Linked DNA regions of Homo sapiens. The protein of the gene in region 1 interacts with the protein of each later gene in a biochemical or structural test. Each region holds a gene or a part of one and is shown in the gene's direction. Other genes may lie near its edges.

Region 1 (3,821 bases):
CCAGGGCCCTGGCCTCTAGACTCACCCCCTCTCCCAGCTGGTAAACAATTATCTGGATCCTTCCCAACTTGGGGACCAGTGCTGTGTTATAAGATCATGACACATGTCACCTGCAGAGGAAGCCACAGCCACGAGTGATGTCCATTTTACCCATGAGGGAACAGACGCCCCAAGGTTCAGTAACCCATCCAAGGCCACAAATGTGTGGAGCCAGGATGAGAATTCTGAGTCCCAAACTCATGATCACTCCATGGCACCAGACATCCTCACTCTCTTGCTCACAGAAGTAATTTGTCCTATCTGAAAATCACGCTCAAATTGCTTTGGGCTGCCATCCACACATCTTTTTAAAGAAATGTTAAGTGATTATTTGATATTCTTAAATTACAAAACAACTTAGGCTTGTGTAACAAATTTTAAAACAAAACATATATAACATAAAATGATAGCTCTTAGCCTCTAATCTACCTTTCCCATCCCTCTTATGAATCATTTAGTGTATATCTCCCCTTAGCTTTCTTATCACACTATATAAAACGTTCAGTGATTTTCTTTTTTCTTACTTAAAGCCATCACGTGTAGCTTCCCACTTCATTATTTCATCTTTTTAAAACTGCCCTTGGCCAGGCGTGGTGGCTCACACCTGTAATGCCAACATTTTGAGAGGCCTAGGTGGGAGGATCACTTGAAGCCAGGAGTTTGATACCAACTGGGGCTACAAAGCATGATCCTGTCTCTACAAAAAATGAAAAATAAAAAATCTGCCTGGCATGGTGGCATACACCTGTAGTCCCAGCTACCTGGGAGGTTGAGGGGGGAGGATCACTTCAGCCCAGGAATTTGAGGTGGCAGGGAGCTATGATCATGCCACTGCACTCCAGCCTGGGCAAAAGAATGAGGCCCTGTCTCTAAATAGACAGATAAATAAATAAATAATAAAACAGCTAATTGTTCCAGAGTATTAATGGATCAGAATTGATGTAGAGAGTGTCATATTGATGGACAGTTAGATTACCCCAATGCTTTAGTAATCATCTGTACAAATATGTGTTTGAGCATATGCATGAGTATTTCTGTAGGACAGATTCCTAGAATGAGAACCTAGGCTGTGTGCATATTACGTTTTGATATTGTCCAATTACCTTCCAAAAAGACTGTGCTAATTCATACTCTATCAACAATATATAAGAGTGTTTCCCTAACACACTTGCCAACCCTAAATATTGTTGTCAATCTTTTTAAAATTTTGCCACTCTACTGGGTGAAAATAAATGGTATTTTGAAATGTTAATTTCCTTGATAGTTAGTAAGGTTGAGTATCTTTTCAAAGCTTACTAATTCTTTATAAGATTTCAATTGGTAACTTGTTCACGTTCTTTGCCCATTTTTGATAGGTGTGTTGCCTTTTATTATCTGTATGAGTGCCTTACACATTGTGCATAGCGACCTGTTATATGTCTCACACACACCTTCTACCTTCCTCGTCCTGCCCCAGCTTTCCCTTCCTAAGCACGCCGCTGGCCTCCCTGCATCAAACCCTCACCCATCCAGCCCCTGAGCTCTCTAACAGGGGCACTATGGAGCAAGGCGTGTGAGTCTCATTCTAGTTTTACAGACAGTAGAACCCAGTAGTTAAGAGAGCTGGCTCTGGGGTTAGGCCTGGACTCCAATCCCAGCTTCAAACCCTGCTCTAACACGTGCGGGCTTTCTGTCTTTAAGGCTGAACTGCTTAACTGCTCTAAACATCTGTTTCTTCAATGGTAAAACAGATAATAATAGTATCAATCTCACAGGCTATCTTTGTGTGCAATAAAATAGCTAGCATTTCTTGAGTCCTTAATTTGTGCCAGTAAATGTATCACAATATGCTATGAATATTGTATTCTATGTGTTCAATGTATTATAATAACGTATTGTTTACCCCTGACAATGCTATTGTGTATTTGTGTATTCACAAAGCCCTCAGCACAGTGCCCACCAAACAAATGTTAGCTTGTAACGTGAGACGTACTCCAGCCCTGCTGCATGGTCGTGTGACAGCGTGTGAAAGCATTGCCCTCTGCCTAGCATGCCGCGTCTCTGACCCTGTGGCCAGTCCTCACACATAGCTCCTGTTGGGCAGCTCCAGTTCTCTCCACCCCCACTGTATCTCTCTGCCACTTTGGCAGCCTTTCTCTGCCTCCTCCAACTCTCCTAGGGTTTTGTTGAAATTCACCAAATCTGAGCCCAGTGCCCTAGATTCCTGTGCACACAGATTCCATGGGTTCAAACTCTGGTGATTAGGAGGCATGACACAGGAAAGCCTTCTCAGCATTTTTTGTTTGTTTATTTGTTTGTTTGAGACCGAGTCTTGCTCTGTCACCCAAGCTGGAGGGCAGTGGCATGATCTCGGCTCACTGCAACCTCTGCCTCCCGGGTTCAAGTGATTCTCCTGCCTCAGCCTCCTAAGTAGCTGGGATTACAGGTGTGAGCCAACAAGCCTGGCTCATTTTTTTGTATTTTTAATAGAGATGGGGTTTCACCATGTTGACCAGGCTGGTCTCGAACTCCTGACCTCATGATCCGCCCACCTTGGCCTCCCAAAGTGCTGGGATTACAGGCTTGAGACACGGCACCCAGCCTGCCTTCTCAGCCTTTGATTCAAACACTAGCTCTTCCATTTACTCCCTGTGCAGGCTTGGGTGAGTTGTGATTACTCAGCTTCTTGGAGCTTGGTTGTACTTGTCTCAGAGGGTAATAGTGAAGATGGCCTGCCCTCGGTAGAATACTTAGCACAGCCCACTGCAGGGGCTCAGCCAGTGCTGCCTCTTCTCCCGCTTCTTCCTGCCTGCCTTTGGTTCTGACTCTCTTTCTAAGGCATTGTGTTGCTTTTTAAAGCTAAGTTAGCACGTTGTATCAATGCCTTTAGGAAACAGCTTCCCTTTGCTCCTAGGACCCTTCCAAAGTGATAACAAATACTTCGAGAGCCATGCTTTTTCAGGGGTTTCTGAACCATTTCTCTCTTGGCTGATTTCCCTCGTGGACAGCAGCATCCATTACAAAATGCCAGCCCAGGTTCAAGCCTTGAATTGCCTTCTTTGTTGGAATATAGGAAATGTTTGCTGAGTGAATGAATGAATGAATGAATGAGTCAGTGCCAGGATCTTTGGTCAGATATTTACAGCCCGTCTTAATCTTGCTTCCTTTCCAGCCTTTCCTCCCTTTACACCTTTCACCTCACCCTTCCCTGAAGCAAATCGCCCACTTTCCCCATTCATCTCTTCCCAAGGCTTTGGTTATTTCATTCCCTCCCCAACCACATGCTTCATTTCTTCAGGACCTAGTTCTGCTGAATTCTCAAGCACTTTCCCTGTGCCTCTCCTGCGGTGCTGTGTACTTTCTCTCTGGTGTCATCACTCAGCCACTGTCCTTTCTTCCTTGGTGACTCCGTGTGGTGGGTTCCTATTTGCTCCATCTCTGTGCTGTTCCCAGTGTCTAGTGCAAGGCTTTGCATGTGGTAGGCATGTAGGCATTTGCTGCATGAACGTGTGAACCATCAAGAAGACCCATTTCTCACCATGCCAACCCAGCATTCCTGGGTTAGAGCAGAAGTTCCAGTGCCACCAACTCCAGGTCCTAGGACAAACAGCTCTGAGTAGAGCTTCAAATCGCCTTTGGTCTATGATATGGTTTGGCTGTGTCCCCACCCAAAATCTCATCTTGAATTGTAATCTGAATTGTAATTCCCATGTGTTGGGGAAGAGACCTTGTGGGAGGTGATTAGATCATGGGAGTGGTTTCCCCATGCTGTTCTTATAATAGTGAGTGAGTTCTCAGAAGAT
Region 2 (3,821 bases), about 60 Mb from region 1:
GATGAGGGTCAAAAAACTGCCTATCTTGTACTATGGTCAGTTGCTGGGTGACGAAATAATCAGTACACCAAATTCCAGTGACACAGTTTGTCCGTGTAACAAATGTACATATGTGCCCCCAAACCTAAAATCAAAAAAAATATGTGTAGAAAACAAAGAGCAAAATGAAGGACCTAAAACCTAAAAACCATTTATAGTCAATATATAAAAAGGCTTAATACCCCAGTTAAAATCAGATATGGATAAATTTTATAAAAACAAAGTAAACAAAGAGGGTACTGACTCTTGTGATAGTTGGATACCAAGAACCATCCCTCACTGGGGCATGCTGTGGCTCACACCTGTTATACCAACACTTTGGGAACCCAAGGCAGGAGAGGATTGCTTGAGCCCAGGAGTTTGGCACTAGCCTGGGCAACAAAGTGAGACCCTATCTCTACAAAAATTAAAAAAATTAGCCAGGGGTGGTGGTGTGTGTCTGTGGTCCTAGCTACTCAGGAGGCTGAGTCGGGGAAGATTGCTCAAGCCCGGGAGGTCGAGGCTGCAGTGAGCTGTGATTGTGCCATTACACTCCAGTCTGGGTGACAGAGCAAGAGCTTATCTCAAAAAAGAAAAAGACTCCATGATTTAATCTAATCAACTTCAAAAACCCAACTCATTCCTCCACACGCCCTGTGCCTTGGCCATAGCATTTACCTCACCATTCTCCTATGCATTATCTATTTTTAGACCTCTGTCTCCCTTTGTTTAAAATGTTCTCCCAGCCTGGATAACATAGCAAGACCCTGTCTCAACAAAAAAAATAAAAATTAGCTGGGTATGGTGGCATGTGCTTGTAGTCCTAGCTACTTGGGAGGCTGAGGTGGAAGAATTACTTGAGCCCAGGATATTTGAGGTTACAGTGAGCTATGGTTGTGCCACTGTACTCCAGCCTGGGCAACAGAGACCCAGTCTGGATGAGAGAGAAGAGAGAGGGGAGAGAGGAGAGAAAAAAGAAAAGAAAAGAAAAAGAAAAAGAAAGAAAGAACCCATCATCTATGAGTGCTGTCCTCACTGAACACCAGAGGCTGGGTATTGAGTTTACATCAGCTTTTAATGAGCTCTCACTAGGTTTCTTCACCCATTCAATGGGAAGGTCTGCTTCAGAGCCATAATTGTGTTCAACGGGACTAGGTTGCAAGGTTTAATAACTCTTCTCTTCTTTTTAAAATTTAATTACTTTATTATTTCACCTTTTTTTTTAAAGCCACATGTAGGCTGAATTCATTTAATTTGACAGAATAACACTCCTTACTGCTAATCCTGATCAATTTTAGCTTTGTGTGTCTTTGGGTTGGATCCACTCAGATAAGAGGACAAAAGAGGGCCGGGCATGGTGACTAGTGCCTGTAATCCTAGCACTTTGGGAGGCCAAGGTGGGCGGATCACCTGAGGTCAGGACTTCAAAACCAGCCTGGCCAACATGGTGAAACCCCTGTCTCTACTAAAAATACAAAAATTAGCCTGGCGTGGTGGTGGGCGCCTCTAATCTAAGCAATTTAGTGATTTGAGCTGGGCTCGGGAGGCTGAGGCAGGAGAATCGCTTGAAAACCCAGGAGGCGGAGCTTGCAGTGAGCTGAGATCGTGCCATTGCACTCGCAAAAAGAGCGAGACTCCATCTCAAAAAAAAAAAAAACCATTCAAAAAGAGGACAAAAGGTTCATTTGGAAAGAGGATATTAAGAAATAAGGAGAAATCATGAAGGGAATTTTAAAATGAAAACATATTTAGTGGCATTGTTTTCTGTTAGGTTTCAAAAAAGTCTCCATTCCAAGTGAGTATTGGTTTAGGAATTTCTTTCTCCTTATTAAAAGTGTTTTCCTATTTACAGTGAAAATAACTTTAGTAAAATTTTGTGAGTACTAAACTTGGATTTTAAAATCAGAGATTTCGATTATATAGTCTGGAGCCTCAGGATTTTAAGTTTCTGTAGGATTGGGTAAAATGCCATTGTAGATTTTTTGGTCATCAGATTATAGAATAAATACTTAAAGTAACTTCAGATTATTATTTTCAAAACCATAGCAGAAACTCTTACCTTACCTATCTTATTGAGAGACAATGTGAAGCCAAGACTAATGGAGTTAGTGTGCTACATTGATGATGAATGACTGGGTAGTACACCACAGAGGGCTGTGTCATGGAGTGTAAAGGTGTTATTCCATTCCTACACCCTACCATCCGTCTTTCCCCATTAAATCAAGGTCAGGGAATGTTACCTTATGTGATTAAATCTGGTAGAGTCATCATTAAACAGGTGAGATAAATCATATGCAGAGTAACCTACTTTTGGTATTGATGAGACTAGGGTGGTTCTTAAGTATTTTATGGAGATCAGGGTATCTTCCTAAATCCAGATGAAGAGATCAGGTTAAGAACTGCTCGCTTTCAGGCTCCACCTGAAGAAACTATGTAGTAGGCTTCTCTCCCTCTACTTATTTTATCATCTTCTTTGATCTAATAAAATGTTTTCCTTATCAATAAGTAATGTTATCTAGTTTGGCTCTACCAGGTGCTAGAGAAGGCATTCATCATTGTATTGTACTTGCAATAACTCTAATACAGGAAAATGTTCAAACCACCCATAATAAAAGTAGCTAAAAAGCAGATTTCTTAAAGACTTTGTGACCGTTTAAGCTCAGCTGACCTTTCTAAGTTGCATGATTCTTAGAAAGGTCCCAGAGAGATGTCTATCTGGTGCTATATAGCAGTTGCTAATTAAATATTTTTTAATTGAATGATTGATATGAGTTGAACACCCAGTAATTATATTTAAAAAGTGATGACTTCAGTGTTTTGACGCCTTTAAAAGGCTACAGTGGTACAAAATGTAGGTGCTACCATGTGAAATTTGAATGTACAGTGAAGTACATATATTCACTGCAATATCTAGAAATAAATATGTATTCTTATAGGTAGAGGCTAGTTTATCCTTGTAATTCTACTGATAAATATAAATGTATATATTGGGGAAATTTGTGGGACTTTTTCAGTATAAGGAAGAAAAAAATCTGAAAATTGAACTCACTGCAGAAGAAATTTTTTGTATTTTCGGGGGAAGTACCAACTAGATGTGCTAACACTTTGTATTTCTTTATGTTTAGTTGCCTCTTTTTTTTTTTTTTAAACGGAGTTTCCCTCTTTCACCCAGGCTGGAGTGCAGTGGCACGATCTCGGCTCACTGCATCCTCTGCCTTACAGTTTCAAGTGATTCTCCTGCCTCAGCCTCCCAAGTAGCTGGGATTACAGGTGCCTGCCACCACGCCTGGCTAATTTTTGTATTTTTAGTAGAGACGAGGGTTTCACCATGTTGGCCAGGTTGGATCTCTTCACATCCTACTGAGCAATAAATGAGATAGCCTAGAGCAGTGGTTTTCAATTTCAGGTAGTTTTGTTTCCCAGGGAACATTTGGCAAAGTCTGTAGACAATTTTTTATCTTTTTTTTGGAGACAGAGTCTGACTTTGTTGCCCAGGTTGGAGTGCAGTGGCATGATCACGGCTCACTGCGGCTTCCACCTCCTGGGCTCAAGCAATCCTCCCACCTCAGCCTCCCAACTAGCTGTACCACCACACCCGGCTAATTTTTTAATTTTTTGTAGAGACAGAGTCTCACTGTGTTGCCTAGGCTGGTGTCAAACTCCTGGCCTCAAGCAGTCCTGCTTCGGCCTCCCAAAGTATTGGGATGGTAGGTGTGAGCCACCACACCCAGCCTGTAGACATTTTTGATTTTTGGAACTAGGGGCTGGAGGAGGGTTGCTACTGTCATGCAGTGGGTGGAGGC

The links.
Region 2: the proteins of RAB7B (region 1) and RNF115 form a complex in vitro, tested with the Homo sapiens proteins (one study listed by BioGRID).

Annotation. Positions count from the first base shown.
Region 1 is NC_000001.11:205,996,874-206,000,694, reverse strand, and holds part of RAB7B (ras-related protein Rab-7b), read left to right. Parts: intron 1-3,821. UniProt on the Homo sapiens protein: Controls vesicular trafficking from endosomes to the trans-Golgi network (TGN). Acts as a negative regulator of TLR9 signaling and can suppress TLR9-triggered TNFA, IL6, and IFNB production in macrophages by promoting TLR9 lysosomal degradation.
Region 2 is NC_000001.11:145,813,925-145,817,745, reverse strand, and holds part of RNF115 (E3 ubiquitin-protein ligase RNF115), read left to right. Parts: intron 1-3,821. UniProt on the Homo sapiens protein: E3 ubiquitin-protein ligase that catalyzes the 'Lys-48'- and/or 'Lys-63'-linked polyubiquitination of various substrates and thereby plays a role in a number of signaling pathways including autophagy, innate immunity, cell proliferation and cell death.